2 separate regions of the Homo sapiens genome follow, and region 2 is linked to region 1. The links come from fine-mapping of genetic effects on gene expression. A gene starts in region 1. The other region holds a variant in brackets. All regions are shown on one strand. Distances are between the middles of the regions. Region 1 holds the start of NUP62 (nucleoporin 62). Region 2 overlaps NUP62 (nucleoporin 62).

What was found.
Region 2: its variant is fine-mapped to the expression of NUP62 in whole blood (INTERVAL, PIP above 0.99).

The regions. Positions count from the first base shown.
Region 1 is chr19:49,924,608-49,932,607 of GRCh38, forward strand. It overlaps NUP62 (nucleoporin 62), which reads right to left and starts at 4,897. Exons shown (of 3, transcript NM_016553.5): 1 at 4,719-4,897; 2 at 3,087-3,208. ATF5 (activating transcription factor 5) reads left to right here and starts at 4,598. Exons shown (of 3, transcript NM_001193646.2): 1 at 4,598-4,793; 2 at 6,125-6,421; 3 at 7,815-8,000. The coding sequence starts at 6,244. It also overlaps a transcript of IL4I1 not described here. RefSeq lists silencers at 4,428-4,487, 5,338-5,387.
Region 2 is chr19:49,902,435-49,911,202 of GRCh38, forward strand. NUP62 (nucleoporin 62) reads right to left here. Exons shown (of 3, transcript NM_016553.5): 3 at 4,391-7,450. The coding sequence starts at 7,373. The coding sequence ends at 5,805. It also overlaps a transcript of IL4I1 not described here. Among named protein-coding and RNA genes, the nearest start is that of IL4I1, 9.9 kb to the left of the region's middle. RefSeq lists enhancers at 4,721-4,840, 5,482-6,203 and a silencer at 7,941-8,020. The variant C/T (reference allele first, on the strand shown) is at 5,321.

The sequences.
Region 1 (8,000 bases):
GGGGGAGGCCAGGACATGAGTCCTGAAGGGGCCACAGGCCTGGGTCAGGAATGTGCACACGAGGGGACTCAGGGTTCGAAGATCTGGGGAGAAGGGTCGCAGGCAACCACTGATGACCGGCTATGAACTAGAACAGGCTGGGAGGGGCTGGAGAGCTAAGGGTGCCAACTGGCACCCACTCACCCTGAGTCCAGCTGCTAAGTCTGGCTGGGCTGAAGTGGGTGGGACCCAATAGCTAGAGAGAAAAGGCGGCAAAACGGTGGGGAGGGGAAGCAGAGTCCCTGCCCAGACACCTCTGCAGCCAGCATAAACCGCACATAGCCAGCAATGCAATTCTCCTACTGACCAAGCTATTAAAAATTACCCACACCGGGCCAGGCGCGGTGGTTCACGCCTGTAATACCAGCACTTTGGGAGGCTGAGGCGGGTGGATCGCCTGAGTTCGGGAGTTCGAGACCAGCCTGACCAACATGGAGAAACCCCGTCTCTACTAAAAATACAAAATTAGCCATGTGTGGTGACACATGCCTGTAATCCTAGCTACTCGGGAGGCTGAGGCAGGAGAATCTCTTGAACCCAGGAGGCAGAGGTTGCGGTGAGCCGAGATGGCACCATTGCACTCCAGCCTGGGCAACAAGAGTGAAACTCCGTCTCAAAAAACCAAAAAAATTAAAAAACAAAACAAAACAAAAAACCCAGGCCGGGCACAGTGGCTCAGGCTTGTAATCCTAACACTTTGGGAGGGTGAGGCAGGAGGATCGTTTGAGCCCAGGAATCAGGAATTCAAGACCAGCCTGGGCAACATAGTAAGACCCTCCCCCCCATCTCTACTAAAAAAAGCCAAAAAAAAAAAAAAATAGCATCCTACCTGGCCATCCTCTCAATATCCCGCAATCCCAGTCTGAGACAAAACCAAATGGAAGCACATTCCATAAAATACCCAACCAGCATTTTTCCAAACTGTCAAGGTCATGAAGGACAAGGAAAGTCTAAAACCAGTCACAGGCCAGAGGAGGCTGCGGAGCCATGATGCCTAAATATAACGTGGCATCCTGAAGGCATCCGGAAGGAGCAGAAAGGGCATTAAGTAACAACTACCAAAATCAGCATCAAGTGTGGTCAGAATCAAGAATGGCATTTGGTCAATGGTAACATACTGATGTTGCCTTGGTTGTGACAAATGTGGCAAAGTAATGTAAAATGTTAATGGAAAAAACCAAGTGAGGGGCATACAGAAATTCTCCGTATTATCTTTGCAACTTTTCTGTTGAGTCAATCTACAATTATTCCAAAATAAAAAATTTTATTTAAAAAATAACCCCCTTGGGTACGGTGGCTCACACCTGTAATCCCAGCACTTTGGGAGGCTGAGGCAGGCAGATCACGAGGTCATGAGTTCGAGACCAGCCTGACCAACATGGTGAAACCCTGTATCTACTAAAAATATAAAAATTAGCCAGGCATGATGGTGCATGTCTGTAATCCCAGCTACTCTGGAGCCTGAAGCAGGAGAATGGCTTGAACCTGGGAGGCGGTGGTTGCAGTGAGCTGTGACGGTGCCACTGCACTCCAGCCTGGGCAACAGAGCGAGACTCTGTCTCAAAAAAAAAAAAAAAAAAAAAAGCTAGGTCTTGCTTAAGACTGGGTGTGGTGGCTCATGCCTGTAAATCCCAGCATTTTGGGAGGCCGAGGTGGGTGGATCACCTGAAGTCAGGAGTTCAAGACCAGCCTGGCCAACATGGCAAAACCCCGTCTCTACTAAAAATACAAAAATTAGCCAGGCGTGGTGGTGGGCGCCTGTAATCCCAGCTACTTGGAAGGCTGAGGCAGGAGAATTGCTTGAATCTGGGAAGTGGAGGTTGAAGTGAGCCAAGATCATGCCACTGCACTCCAGCCTGGGCGACACAGCAAGACTCTGTCTCAAAAAAACCAAACCAAACCAAACCAAACCCAGTCCCCATGTACAATCTAGAAGATCTTCGTAGGAAAAGATTCTACCGGCGGGGCGGGGGAGATAGGGCACGTCTGTGCGTCCTTACCACTGGCAGTCTGCCCAACAGTCTACCCTTAATTCCATCTGCTTTTGTTCAAAAATCTATACAGCAATGGAATGAGAACACATCCACCTTAATTACAGCAATAACAATAACCACTTTTATGCAGCACCTACTGTGTCCCAGGCGTTAGTCTAACTGCTCGACACGGATTAACTCATTTAATCCTTGTAACAGCCCTAAGAAGTAGGTACTTTTTTTTTTTTTTTTTTGAGACGAGGTCTCACTCTGTCACCCAGGCTGCAGTGTGGTGGCACAATCTCGGCTTACTGCAACCTCCGCCCCACCCCAGGGTTCAAGTGATCCTCCTGCCTTAGCCTCATGAGTAGCTGGGACCACAGGTGCAAACCACCACACCCGACTATTTTTTTGTATTTTTGGTAGAGACAGGGTTTCACCATGTTGCCCAGGCTGGTCTCGAATTCCTGAGATCAAGCAATCTGCCCACCTCAGCCTCCCAGGGTGGTGGGACTACAGGCATGAGCCACCGTGCCTGGTCCAGAGGTAGGTATTCTTAATGCCACTTCGTACCACAGGGGAAACTGAGGCACAGGGAAGGGAAATGGCCAGGGTCACACAGCTAGTAAGAGGGGTGCAGTCAAGTTTTGAACTCATATAATCTGGCTCCAGAGTCTATGCCAGGTATGTATAAAATTTGGCTTCCTGGGGCCACATTGAAGAATTGTCTTAGGCCACACATAACATACACTATTGATAGCTGATGAACTTAAAAAAAAATCGCAAAAAATTCGCATGTTTTGGTAAGGTTTACAAATTTGTGTTAGGCTGCATTCAAAGCTGTTCTAGGCCGCATGCAGGCCCACGGGTGGGACAAGCTCAGTCTATGCTCTTAGCTGCTACTCTGTATACTGCCTCAGTGATAACACAGCCCCTATAGGCCCAAGAAAATATAGGGCAAGTGCTCAAAAACTGGCAGAGTGGACAGTAAGTGCTCTAAGGGAAGGTGGTCAGATCCCAAGAAGGACTTCCTGCCCGCAACAGGTAAGGAAGGAGAAAGAAGCTTGTGTGTACCGCTCAGTATCAGGATTCCTCCACCTTCTCTGGACCTTGATTCAGTCTCCTAACTGCCACAGAAGGGATGAAGGTTGAACTCCAGCTGGGATGTCCTGATGTGGATGGGACAAGGTGGGTTTCTGCAACAGAGAAAAGACGGACATCCACCTCGGCTGGTGGAGGAGGGCCCAGTGCATGAGAAGGGGCAAGATGGCTACCCTGTGACTAAACGAAAACGGAGATCTTCCATTTTTGGCAGGGTTGGGAGATAGTTCCTATCCAGTGGAAGCTGAAGGACGGTTTGAAAGGAAGCCAAGGGCAAGGGATGGAGAAAAGGACGCAGCTGGGGCCTCGATGTCTGAATCCCTGCCAGGGGATGGGGCCTGGGCACCCATCATTTGGAATGGAAGATGAGGATAGCTGGAAACAGACACTTTAGAGGGATGAGGGAGACAGAAGAATGACAGCAGGTGTTGGACAGTCCAACGTCTGCGGCTCTTACAAGTGGTAAGGAAGAAATGAGACTGGGCCCCAGAGTTCCTATTAATAAAATATGCTGAGGCCGGGAGCGATGGCTCACGCCTGTAATCCCAGCACTTTGGGAGGCCGAGGCGGGCGGATCACGAGGCCAGGAAATTGAGACCATCCTGGCTAACACAGTGAAACCCCGTCTCTACTAAAAATACAAAAAATTAGCCGGGCGTGGTGGCGGGCGCCTGTAGTCCCAGCTACTCGGGAGGCTGAGGCAGGAGAATGGCGTGAACCTGGGAGGCGGAGTTTGCAGTGAGCCGAGATCGCGCCACTGCACTCCAGCCTGGGCGACAGAGACGGAGAGACTCCGTCTCAAAAAAAAAAAACAGTTGAACAGGAATGTATGAGTTGAGCTCTGTGCATAAGGCTTGCCAGACATCGTCTTATTTGAGTCTCATAAACCCACCAGGCGAGTTGATTTTTCTTATTTTACAGATAGGGAAATGAAGTAAGAGAACTTAAGTTATTTGCCCGAGGCCATCCTGGCAGGTCTGTATTTGGGAGAGTGCTGTGACTCATGCTGGACTCTAACCCACGAGGGTTTCTCAGAGTCAGCAGCTGGGGGATGAAGAAGTGAAAAGTGACTGGCAGGAAATTCTGCAAGCAAGGAAAGGGAAAGAGAAATGAACTGGTGCAGGTCTGCGGGAAGAGAATGAGGCTGGATCCTCAAAATCACAGGAGGAAGCAGGCCCAGACCTCAGAGGCAGAAAGAGAAAGAAACCAGAGCTTAGAGTCAGGAGGAGGAAACCAGACCCCGGAGCCACAAGGAGAGGGCTGGATCCCCGGCTCAGAGGGAAGAGGTCGGATCCCCAGCTGAGAGGGAGGAGGGTCCCGGACCCTAGGAGTGGGAAGGAAAGGCTCGGATCCCCTGATCCCCAGGAGGAGGGGACCCGGCTGCCTCCCGGTTGGGGCCGCGCGAGGGCGGGGCGCGGAAGGATCCGGGAGGGCCGTGCTCCGCCACCCAGTATATATCTGTCCCCAGTCCCCGGGGCCGCCTCATTCCCTGTCCTCGGATCACAGTCTCTTCTCACTACAGTGTCGCCGCCTCTGCCTGCGTAGCCCCGGCCATGGCTCTGTAGCCTCGACCCCTTTGTGCCCCCGGCCCGTCTCCGCGCTCACCACGCCTGCGCTCTCCGCTCCCACCTTCTTTCTTCAGCCGAGGCCGCCGCCGCCTCTCCTTGCTGCAGCCATGGAGTGAGTAACCGCTTACCTCTTCTCCAACTGCCTTTCCCGCCCTTTCGCAGCTCGTGGCCCTCTTTAGGGAGCCCTGGGGGGTGGGGAGTCGCGAGCGGGGAATCACGGTCGCGCAGGCGCAGAAGTAGTACGGTGGGCCGAAGGCGCGCGGCTGCGCATGCGCACTGGGCCCGGGGCCGGGTGGGAGAGTTCTAGACTCGATGTTTGTCAGCCCGCGTGCAGCTGGGCCTGAGCACTCCAGGGGAGGGTGTGTTTTTTTTTTTTCTAAACGATTCTTCGTGCTTGGTTGTTCCTGCGCAGTAGCCCACCAGTGCCCCGTAGTGAAAGAGCTGCGGACCCTGAATGGCCGCACATGCGCATTGATCCCCAAGAGGGCGGAGGTGTAAAGGCAATTGGACCGCTCGGGCGACGTAGCATGCGCCTTGGCCCTCGGCGCAGAGCCGCGTGTGGACGGGTGGCGTTCGGGTAGCCGTTCTCCGCGTGCCCCCTCTACCCTCCTCCACCCTCCCTGCCCCACGTTGCTCTGGCTCACAGCCCAGCTTCCTTCCTTTTAAACCAGGCACCTGCTGAGGCGGGGACTGGCTTAGATTGACAGGGCAGAAGGCGGGACCCAGAGGCAACCCTCTAAGTGGGTGGGGATAGAACCACTGTCGTCACGATGGGTGGGATTTCGGAAGCACATTGTGAGAAGGGGCGGGGCTAAACCAACCGTTAGTTGAGGGGTGGGGTTTCGATGTGACAAAGAGGCGGGGCCTCTGGGGAATCGGGGGAGGGGCGGAGCTAAATAAACAATGAGGGGCGGGGCTTGGAGGGGCAGCGGCAGAGCGAGGAGTGGGATTTGAGTGGATAACATTGCTGAAGGGCTGCGGCCTGGGGCAGTTCCCCTGGGAACTGGTTTGGGATGGAAGCTAGGAAGGCAGTGGGGCCAAAAGGAAATATTTTAGAGGAAGGGGCGTGGCTGGAAGAAAATGTCCCTGGGATTGAGTTTTTCCTTGAGGCGAAATATTCTGAGGTGGATGGGAGGGGCCTAAGGTAATTCCCCTGGGAGACCTTTAGGTTTTTTTTTTCTGTATTGGGGGAAGGGGTGGGGCATCGGTCCTACTTTAGGACCTAAAGAAATTCCCTTGGGAGTGGGTGGGGCTCAGAGATTTGGGTAAAGAAAGGGCAAATTTAGAATTCGGAGAGGCTGAGGCTTAGTGTTCTAAACGGTGGTTGGAAGGGGGAGGGAGGAGCCTCATGGACGTGCCTGGGGGTGTGGCTTGGCTTCCCCTTGATTTTGGCCGGTGGATGACGCTGTCCTGACCACACCCACTCTTGTCTCACGCGTGTAGGTCTTCCACTTTCGCCTTGGTGCCTGTCTTCGCCCACCTGAGCATCCTCCAGAGCCTCGTGCCAGCTGCTGGTGCAGCCTCTCCTGTTGCCATCAGTGCCCAGCACCTGTGCTACAGCCATGTCACTCCTGGCGACCCTGGGGCTGGAGCTGGACAGGGCCCTGCTCCCAGCTAGTGGGCTGGGATGGCTCGTAGACTATGGGAAACTCCCCCCGGCCCCTGCCCCCCTGGCTCCCTATGAGGTCCTTGGGGGAGCCCTGGAGGGCGGGCTTCCAGTGGGGGGAGAGCCCCTGGCAGGTAAGGGCAGGTGGAAGGTGGAGCTGGGGAGTGGAGGGCAGGGGAAGATGGGGGAGGAAGAACTCATCCATGTATTCAATAAATATTGAGTGCCTACAATGTGCCAGGCACTGTTTTAGGTGCTGAGGATACGGCTGGGAACAAGAAGAACATGGTCTGTGCCTTCCAGCAGCTCACACTGTGGGGAGTAGACCAGAGATAAATTAAATGAGAGTGTATTGGAATAAGTCAAAAACACCTAGCAGCTGAGCTACAAAATGACAAAGGGGACCTAATATAGAATGGGTAGCCAGAAAACCTTCTCCAAGTAGGTAACATGTTGACTGAGGCATAAATGATGGGAAGGAAGCCAGGCATGATGGCCTGTAATCCCAGCACTTTGGGAGGCCAAGCGGGGAGAATTGCTTTAGTCCAGGAGTTCAGGACGTGGGCAACATAGCGAGACCTCATATCTATAGGAAAAAAAAAATTAGCCAGGCATGGTGGCTCACGCTTGTAGTCACAGCTACTTGGGAGGCTGAGGTGGGAGGATCGCTTGAGCCTGGGAGGTCTAGGCTGCAGTGAGCCAAGATGATGCCACTGCACTGCAGCCTGGGCAACAGAGTGAAACCCTATCCCTTAAAATAAAAAAAAAGTAGGGAAGGAATGAGGAAAACACCCAAGGGAAGAGCATTTTAGTTGGAGGGAACTGTATATGCAGAAGCCCTCAGGAGGCAGGAATCATTTCATTCATTACTGTATCCCAAATGCTTGGCACATAGTGGGTTTTCAATAATTAATGAGTAAAGATGAAACAAGGCATATGTGCGTGTGTATCTGTGTGTGTAATGTGATCTAGTTTGCCTTTTAAAAAGAGAGAATAGAGACACCACAGATACAGAGTACTCGGTAAAGGAGATGTTGGAATGGTTGAAGAAATGCTTGGTTGACTGTTGCTTGAGTCATTGGTTGGTTGGCTGGTTCTTTTTTTCTTTTTTAATTTTTTTTTTCTCCTGGACCCTCTTATGGGTTAAGACTGATTCTTTCATTGGCTAATTTGTTGGGTTTTGGTTAACTGGTTCATTGGTTGATTAATGGGTTGATTGGTTGGTTGACTGATTTATTTGGTTGGTTGACCGATTCCCTGATTGATTGGTCGACTAGTTCATTGGTTGGTTGGTTGGTTGGTTGGTTGACTGGGTGGTTAGATGGTTGATTGTTGGTTGGTTCGTTGACTGGTTTATTGGTTTCTTCACTGGTTTGTTGGTTTATTGACTGGTTTGATGATTCAGTGGTTAGTTGTTTTACTGAATGAATGGGACAGATGCACCTGAATGAGACGTGAGTCAGCACCCAACTACGCAGAAGACCAGCAACTCAGGGAATTTTGTGTCCCTCCCCACTTTAATCCCAGGTGATGGCTTCTCTGACTGGATGACTGAGCGAGTTGATTTCACAGCTCTCCTCCCTCTGGAGCCTCCCTTACCCCCCGGCACCCTCCCCCAACCTTCCCCAACCCCACCTGACCTGGAAGCTATGGCCTCCCTCCTCAAGAAGGAGCTGGAACAGATGGAAGACTTCTTCCTAGATGCCCCGCCCC
Region 2 (8,768 bases), 22 kb before region 1:
CTGCAAGCTCCGGATGGCAGCCATTTCTTAATATCATTAAATCAATGTTCACGTTTCCTGGAATAGCTCATCACTGAAAAACAAAACAAAACAAAACAAAAAAACAGTTTAGGCCGGGCATGGTGGCTGACACCTGCAATCACAGTACTTTGGGAGGCCGAGGTGAGCGGATCACCTGAGGTCAGGAGCTCAAGACCAGCCTGGGCAACATGGTGAAACCCCATCTCTACTAAAAATACAAAAATTAGCCAGGCGTGGTGGCGGGCACCTCTGTAATCCCAGCTACTCAGGAGGCTGAGGCAGGAGAATCACTTGAACCTGGGAGGCAGAGGTCGCTATGAGTTGAGATCATGCCACTCCAGCCTAGGCGACAGAGCGGGACTGCATCTCAAAAAAAAAAGGCCAGGTGTGGTGGCTCATGCCTGTAATCCCAGCACTCTGGGAGGCCGAGACAGGTGGATCACAAGGTCAGGAGATCAAGACCATCCTGGCCAACATGGTAAAACCCTGTCTCTACTAAAAATACGAAAATTAGCTGGGTGTGGTAGTGCACGCCTGTAGTCCCAGCTACTCAGGAGGCTGAGGCAGGAGAATCGCTTGAACCCGGGAGGCAGAGATTGCAGTGAGCCGAGATCACACCACTGCACGCCAGCCTGAGCAACAGAGCAGGACTCTCTGAAAAAAAAAACAACAACAAAACAAAAAACGGTTGGTTTGTCAAGATGCAAATCACAGTCCATATTGCATTTGAGTGACATTGTCTTGGTCAGTAAGTGTCACTATCAGTTCTGTGGATTCAAGGGAACTAGGGTATCTGAGGTGACCCCAGGGCACCAGGCTAGTCCCCATCACGGCAGCGCACCCGGTCTGCTTCTTGCCTCGGGAAACCTTTGGCGTCTGAGAGGGTTCAACCTGATGGTGTCTGGAGGGGAGACGGGACAAGGGCGCCCATGTGGGTCACTGTGTTTGAAGTCACCAGGGCCCTGGTGTGCAGAAGCCAAGGGTGTGGTCCTGTGGGACAGGCAGGGGAACAGCCGGGGTCACTGAAACCTGGCTGGGGGGCTGGCTGCTGTGCAAGAAGCAGACCTCGCTTCCGAGCGTGAGGGCTTTGCTCCCTGGGAGGTTCTGTGGAGAGCCGCTGCCCTGAGTCTGAGGGGCAGATTTTTAAAGCACCCTGACATTTTTGGGGTTTACTGAAAACTTGGGAGCAGTGGTGTGCTGAAGCTGAGTCATACCAGGTCATAAGAGCTGATTTACATTTTCAGGAGTTTTTGCTTTGCAAGCCACTCATTACTAAAAAATAAATTGTATTGATGATTAGTTTTTACTAAAAAAGAATAAAAAGTCATCATTCCCTCATGGTTTGACTACATATTATACTGTTATATGTGCTGGGTTTTTTTTTTTTTTTTTTTTTTTTTTGAGACAGGGTCTCACTTTTGTTACCCAGGCTGGAGTGCAGTGGTACGATCTCGGCTCACTGCAATGTCTGCCTCCCAGGTTCATGTGATCCTCCCACCTCAGCCTCCAAGTATCTGAAACTACAGGCAGGAGCCACTACGCCAGGCTAATTTTTGTATTTTTGTAGAGACGAGGTTTCGCCATGTTGCCCAGGCTGGTCTCAAACTCCAGACCCCAAGTAATCTACTCCCCTTGGCCTCCCCAAAATGTCGGGATTACAGGCATGAGCCACCACACCCAGCCCCCATTTGCCACTCTTATCCCTAAACAGGGGAAAGCAAAGCAGTAAGAGCTGAGATTCACCTTTAAAAGCCTCTGATTCCAAATTTAGTCACCAAATGTGTTGTCTTCATATGAATTAATGAGGAACTTAAGGAAAGGCCATTTGTCAGGACTGGGAAGGAAGCACATCTGTGTATTTTCTTCCTGGAAAGGGAAACTGAAATTACGATGGAGCCATCACCCGCGGTGGCACCCAGTCGGTTGCTGATGCTGCTGCGATCTCGGGATCCCTCCTAGACTCCCCCAGGAGGCCTGTTGGGACCATTTCTCACATGGCTTTGGGGCACAGAGCCTCCTGATTTAATGGAATCACTTGTGTTATTCAGAGTGGGGTGCTCAAGATCCTTTGGGGTATGGGAAGAAAATGCAGAACTTAAAATTTTTTTTTTGAGATGAAGTCTAACTTTGTTGCCCAGGCTGGAGTGCAGTGGCGCGATCTTGGCTCACTGCAACCTCCGCCTCCCAGGTTCAAGTGATTCTCCTGAGTACCTGGGAGTTACAGGCACCCACCACCACGCCGGGCTAATTTTTGTATTATTTATTTACTTATTTGAGACGGAGTCACTCTTTTGCCCAGGCTGGAGTGCAGTGGCTTGATCTCTGCTCACTGTAAGCTCCGCCTCCCGGGTTCATGCCATTCTCCTGCCTCAGTCTCCCGAGTAGCTGGGACTATAGGCGCCTGCCACCACACCCGGCTAATTTTTTTATATTTTTAGTAGAGACAGGGTTTCACCGTGTTAGCCAGGATGGTCTCGATCTCCTAACCTCGTGATCCGCCCACCTTGGCCTCCCAAAGGGCTGGGATTACAGGCATGAGCCACCGTGCCCAGCCCCTAATTTTTGTATTTTTAGAAGATACGGGGTTTCACCATGTTGGCCAGGCTGGTCTCAAACTCCTGACCTCAGGTGATCCACCCGCCTCGGCCTCCCAAAGCTGGAATTTATTTTAAAAATATAACTATAAGAAAGCAATTAAGCTTTGCTAATGGTTAATATACAAAATAGGAAATAATATGCAAAATAATAGGAAAAATATACATGTACACTTTGGAAATACATGCTCAAATTTTCTCATCATGATTGTGTGGCCCCTGCCAACGACCTTGTGGGCATTTTTTGGTACCTCCAGCACCAGATCAGGATCAGCTCTAAAAATGGATGCTGAACGCACAAATGTAGGTAAAATGCAAACTGCTTCCTACCTCCTAAGGGGACTCAAGGCCTCCCTTCCGGCAGAGGGGACAATATGAGTCAAGGCCTATGAACTGCAGGAAAAGGTCCCTGCTGTAGGTGACAGCTTTCAGAGAGAAGTAGCTGGGTTGTGGGGTCTTCCTCTGGTTTACTGCTCCCACCACACACACCCATGGTTTCTACTTAGACACAACTCTTGTCCTCCAGAGCCCAAGATGGTGCAAGGAAATTTTATTTATTTATTTGAGACGAAGTTTCGCTTTTGTTGCCTAGGCTGGAGTGCAATGGCATGATCTCGGCTCACTGCAACCTCCACCTCTCGGGTTCAAGCGATTCTCCTGCCACAGCCTCCCGAGTAGCTGGGATTACAGGCGCCCGCCACTTAACTAGCCACCAGCTCATGTTTGTATTTTTGGTAGAGATGGGATTTCTCCATGTTGGCCATGCTGGTCTCGAACTCCTGACCTCAGGTGTTCTGCCAGCCTTGGCCTCCCAAAGTGCTGGGATTACAGGTGTGAGCCACCGCACCTGGCCGGTCCAAGGAAATAATGACTCATGATCATGACTTCGGGAGACTTTTGGAACCTGGGCCATGAATCTCCCAAGTGTTGCCCACAGACTGAGATGGAACAGGCAGCAGGAGGCCAAAGGGGTACACTCCACTCCCCACAGCCCAGGAGATCTGAGTGCTTAGGACCATTCCAGTCCATAGAGCGAGGCTGGAGGGTGGAGGAAGAGCATTGGGCCCGTGTCTTTAGCCCCAGGTGACAGGAAGGAATGCTGCCCATGACATCTGTAACCACTGGAATAGCGCCTTAGGGATGGTACTAGATGACTTAACATGTGTGTATATTTTTTGAGACAGAGTCTTGCTCTGTCGCCCAGGCTGGAGTGCAGTGGTGTGATCATGGCTCACTGCAGCCTCAAAGGCCTGGGCTTAAATGATCCTTCCATCTCAGCCTCCCAGGTAGCTGGGACCACAGTTGCGTGCCACCACGCACAACCAAACTTTTTTGTAGTTTTTATAGAGACGGGGTTTCACCATGTTGCCCAGGCTGGTCTTGAATCCCTGACCTCAAGTGATCTGCCCATCTTGGCCTCCCAAAGTGCTGGGATTACAGGTGTGAGCCACCTCGCCCAGCCATATTTGTGTATATTCTACGACATAACTGTCACAAAACACCTGGAGCCCACTCCCCGTGGCGGCTTCACTCGTGTGTTCCTCTTCTACCACTAGCACCACCCCTTCCTGGAGCAAACCACGATTTGCATTTGTCTATTACTCTGTCTCATCAAACAAAAGCTGCTTCATCGCATACCCCTATGTCTATGCAAGCACTACTTCATTTGCTTGCCTGTGCGTTTCATGTGAATGGCACCCCTGCAGAGTCTCCTGGAACCTGCTCTTTTTACTCAGCTTTCTCCTCCTAACATTTATCCATATTAACAGCAGCTGTTTTGGTTTCACAATACATTTATTTAGAAAAGCAACATACAGTAATAGGTATTTCAGAGAATTCAGCAAAGTATAAAGACAAATACAAAAGATGCTTGGGATACAACCGCTAGCTTCTGCCTTCCACACACAGTGGATTTTACTGTAACTGACTAGAGTTACTCTGGTGCCACTAAGTTCCGAGCCAAGTCTACGGCCACCACTGGAAGCTGTGGCTATTTCTGTGGACTGACGTTACACTGGGCTTCATTGTTCTTTCATTTAACAAATGTGACAGGGACCGGGCTGGGGACACACGGGGAACGACAGTGGGTCTCTGCCCATGGGAACTCACAATCTAACAGCGAGACGAGGCACAAACGGCTAGCACAGGATAGCATAACAAGTGCCACCCAAGGTACAGGCTCAGGGTGCTACGGGGACCTGCAAGAAGGCCACCTGAGCTTCGGGTAGCTGGGAAGGCTTCCTGGAGGAGGTGAGGCCCAAGGTGGGGGTGAGCCTGGGCCAGGCAAAAGGCAGGCCTCTCGGCGCCCATCTGTGGTTCCTCAACACCCTGTGTGTGCAGGCCCCTCAGCTGACCTGTCTTCTGTGAAATTCTTGATCCCGCTCTGTTCTATTCACACTGTGCTGCTTTGCCTTGGTGGTTAGCATGGTTAGCTTTCACAAGCACAAGCTCACACTCGAAAACTAGGCTGCTGTCTCCTGGGAGTTTCTTTTTTTTTTTTTTTTTTTTTGAGACAGAGTCTCTGTTGCCTAGGCTGGAGTGCAGTGGTGTGATCTTGGTTCACTGCAACACCTCCTGGGTTCAAGTGATTCTCCTGCCTCAGCCTCCCGAGTAGCTGAGATTGAGATCACAGGCGTCCACCACACCTGACTAATTTTTGTATTTTTAGTAGAGACGGGGTTTCACCATGTTGGCCAGGCTGGTCT[C/T]GAACTCCTGACCTCAAGTCATCTGCCCGCCTTGGCCACCCAAAGTGCTGAGATTACAGGGGTGAGCCACTGCGCCCTGACTTGGAGGTTCTCTTACATTTGGTATTTTTTCATGACACCTATGACTATGCTTTGGAGAGAGTGGCTGCCCCCACGACCCTGGCTGGGACCAAGACCATCAGCACTTCTCCATCACCAGGCTGAGCCAGGATGAGGTGGGTGGTCGCAGTAGGTGAAAAGGGGCCAAAGATACTCAAATGAAAGCCACAGAAGCCACACCCATGAGGCTGCTGCCTGGGCAGAAGGCCCAGAATACCCTCCTAAATGGAAAAACGCAAAGCACACAGCGATCATGTCAAGGGCAGTCATGTGAAAGAAAGAAACAAACAAACAAGTATCTTGCCACAACCCCAAACTACAGACAACAGGGCGCATTCCCCTCATGAACTCCCTAGGGACCTGCGGGCCCCAGGGCTGCTGTCGCTCAGTCAAAGGTGATCCGGAAGCTGCGCTCCTGCTCCTTGCGCCGGCCCTCGCACACCTTGGTCACCTCCTCCACCTTCCTCTGCAGCAGGGCCGAGTTCTGGTCGATCCACTGCAGTGAGTCCATGTGCGCATTGAGGATCTTGCAGATCTGCTGCAGTGGGTCACTGGTGTCGGCGGGGGCCCCGGACGTGTTCAGGTGCTCGATGATGTCCTTGAGATCCTGGGCCATGCGCTTGAGCTGTGCATCGATGTTCTCAGCCAGCTTGTAGGTTTTCTCACGCTCCTCATCCGCGTGCTGCAGGTAGATGGTCCCGCTCTGCTCCTTGACCAACTCCTCCAGTGGGCTCAGCAGGTCTTCCAGCTCCTTCTGCTGGGACAGGATGAAGTCGAGCTCCTGGTCCAGCCTCTTCTGGTCCAGCTTCACCTTCTCCACCTCGCGGTGCAGGCTGGTGATCTTTTCTCCATTCTCGATCAGCGTGCGGTCCCAGGCGTTGACCTGGGTGGCCTGCTGGAGGAAGTGCCGCTCCTGGTCCTCTAGCTCCAGGCTCCATTTGTTGATCAGGCTCTCCAGCTGCGCGTAGGTCATGGCGGAGCTGGCAGCCGCCCCTGCAGCTGCGCCAGGGCCAGGTGGAGCGGTCACGGCAGCTGCTGTATTGCTGGGGATCCCGGCTGGCGCCAGTGGTTTTAAATTCAAGGCAAAGCCGGTGGTGCTGCTGCTGCTGGTGGTGGTGGCGGTGGCGGTGGCAGCGGTGGATGTTGTTGTGGAGGTGCCGGAAGCTGCTCCAGGTGCCTTTAAGCTGAAGCCCTGTGTCCCAGCAGTGGGGGCGCCCGCTGTGGTCACAGGGGTACAGAGGGAGAGTCCAGTGGTGGCAGATGAGGTTGGAGCAGTTGCTATTGACGCAAAGAGGCTGGGCCCAGTGCTGGTGATGGTGGCTGTGGGTGTGGGAGCAGCTGGCTGTGTGGCACCTGCTGTGGTGGCTGCTGGCGTGGCCGGAGTGAAGGGCAACGTGGCAGGTGCCGTGGGCTGGGCTGAATTCCCTGCTGAGCCAATGTTGAAACCGGAGGGTTGGGCCGTGCTTCCACCAGTGAATGAGAAGCCTCCAGATGTGGTAGCTGGAGCCACAGAGGTGGTGGAGGGGCCAAACACAAAGCCGGTGGGTGCTGTGCCCTGGCTGGAGGTGACGGTGCTCGATATGGCATTAGTGAGGTTGCTGCTGCCCAGCCCAAAGCCGCTGGGGTTTGCCATGGCTGGGGTGGCAGCTGTGTTGCTCAAGTTGAGCTTTGAAGCACCGATCCCCAAAGAAAATCCAGTTCCCCCCGAAGCAAGAGTCGCTGTTCCAAAAGTGAAGCCTGTCGTCTGTGTGGCCGGAGTCTGGGTGGCAAGTGAGAACAGGCCGGTGGAAGGGGTACTTGTGGCTGGTTGGAAGGGAGCCCCAAAATTAAACCCTCCAGTGCCAGAGGTGGAGAAAGAAAACCCTGTAGCAGGTGTGGTTGTTGCCGTCTTTGCAGTGCCAAACGTGAACCCGCCTGTAGGGGCCCCAGTGCCTCCAAAATTAAACCCGCTCATGGCTCCGGACTCTGGTGGCGGCAGCTACTCTGGCTCCCAAAGCAAATCCGTCGGTGTCTGCAGCCTTGGGAAGATTTCTAAAGCAGAGGAAGTGACATTGTCAGATGGCAGTTTTGGAAAGGCAAGCTCAGTGGCATGACTGGGCACAGTCGGTTTGGAGGGTGGTGGGATGGGATAATGATGCATGCTGTGTAACCTAAACTAGGCTCTGCTACATCGAGAAGGATCCAGAAGCACAAAAGCACGCCCCAGGGGTCAGGTACGAGGAGCCGGGGTGCTAGGGACGTGCGTGGCCATGTTCAGCCCAGTGGAAAGCTCCCACTCTGTGGAGGACGAGGCGGGAGAACAGGACCTTGGACCCACCTCAGCCTGAGGAGATCAGATTTGAGGCACTGCCACAAGCGGGACTAGGACACACAAGAACAGCTGTAGGACCTGCTCCCAGCGTGGGACCCAGTGAGGTTCCCTGGCTGACTCTAGCAGGGTGTGAGCGGATCAGCTCTTGCCACCCTGAGGGCCTCTCTGGACCTCAGAGAGAGAGATGGGGCCGGGAACCCAGGCTGGATGGCAGGGTCTGGGTTGCTGAAGGCCCCCCAGGCCCACACCTGCACTCTCTAAGAGCAGGAGAGGACACTGGAACTCCTCCTCCTAACTCAGGGGAGGGTCTGAAACCCATGTGCTCAGAGCACAGATGCCCCTGGCTGCAGTGATTGGCTCAAGGATAAACTGAGACCTGAGCCAGGCAATCGGAGCCTCCCCTGGGGTTTTCTCCAGGCTTGGAAGGCAGCTGCCTCCTTCACCTGTAGGTGTGGTGTGGAGGATTGCACCTGGGCCTCCCTTGGACACCTTCTCAACCATCTGCAGACACTGGGACATCACGGGAGACCATGAGCCCCACCAGAGATGGGTGGGGGTGGGGGTGGGGGAGGGATAAAGAGCACCCCAGAAGACCCATGGGCCACAGTATTTCCATTCAGTTCAAACTGACTTGATTTTGGTAATGTCTAACTGAAAAATCTCCCAGTGGTGCCATCTATCAGCAGGAAGGTCAAAGGTTACCTGGTGAGGAAAGGGTGAGAGGGAGTGCTGAATAGGGGTGGTTTCTTTTTCTTTTGGGAAAGGGTTTTTTTCTGTCATACTAGCTGGAATGCAGTGACATGATCACAACTCACTGCAGCCTCAACCTCCTGGACCCAAGTGATCCTCCCACCTCAGCCTCCCAGAGTAGCTAGGACTACAGGTGCATGCCACCATGCGTGGATAATCTTTTTTATTTTTTGTGGAAATGGGATCTCACTCTGTTGCCCTGGTCTTCAACTCCTGGGCTCAAGCGATCCTCCCTCTTTGTCCTCTCAAAGTGCCAGGACTACAGGCGTGAGCCCTAAAGATGATCAG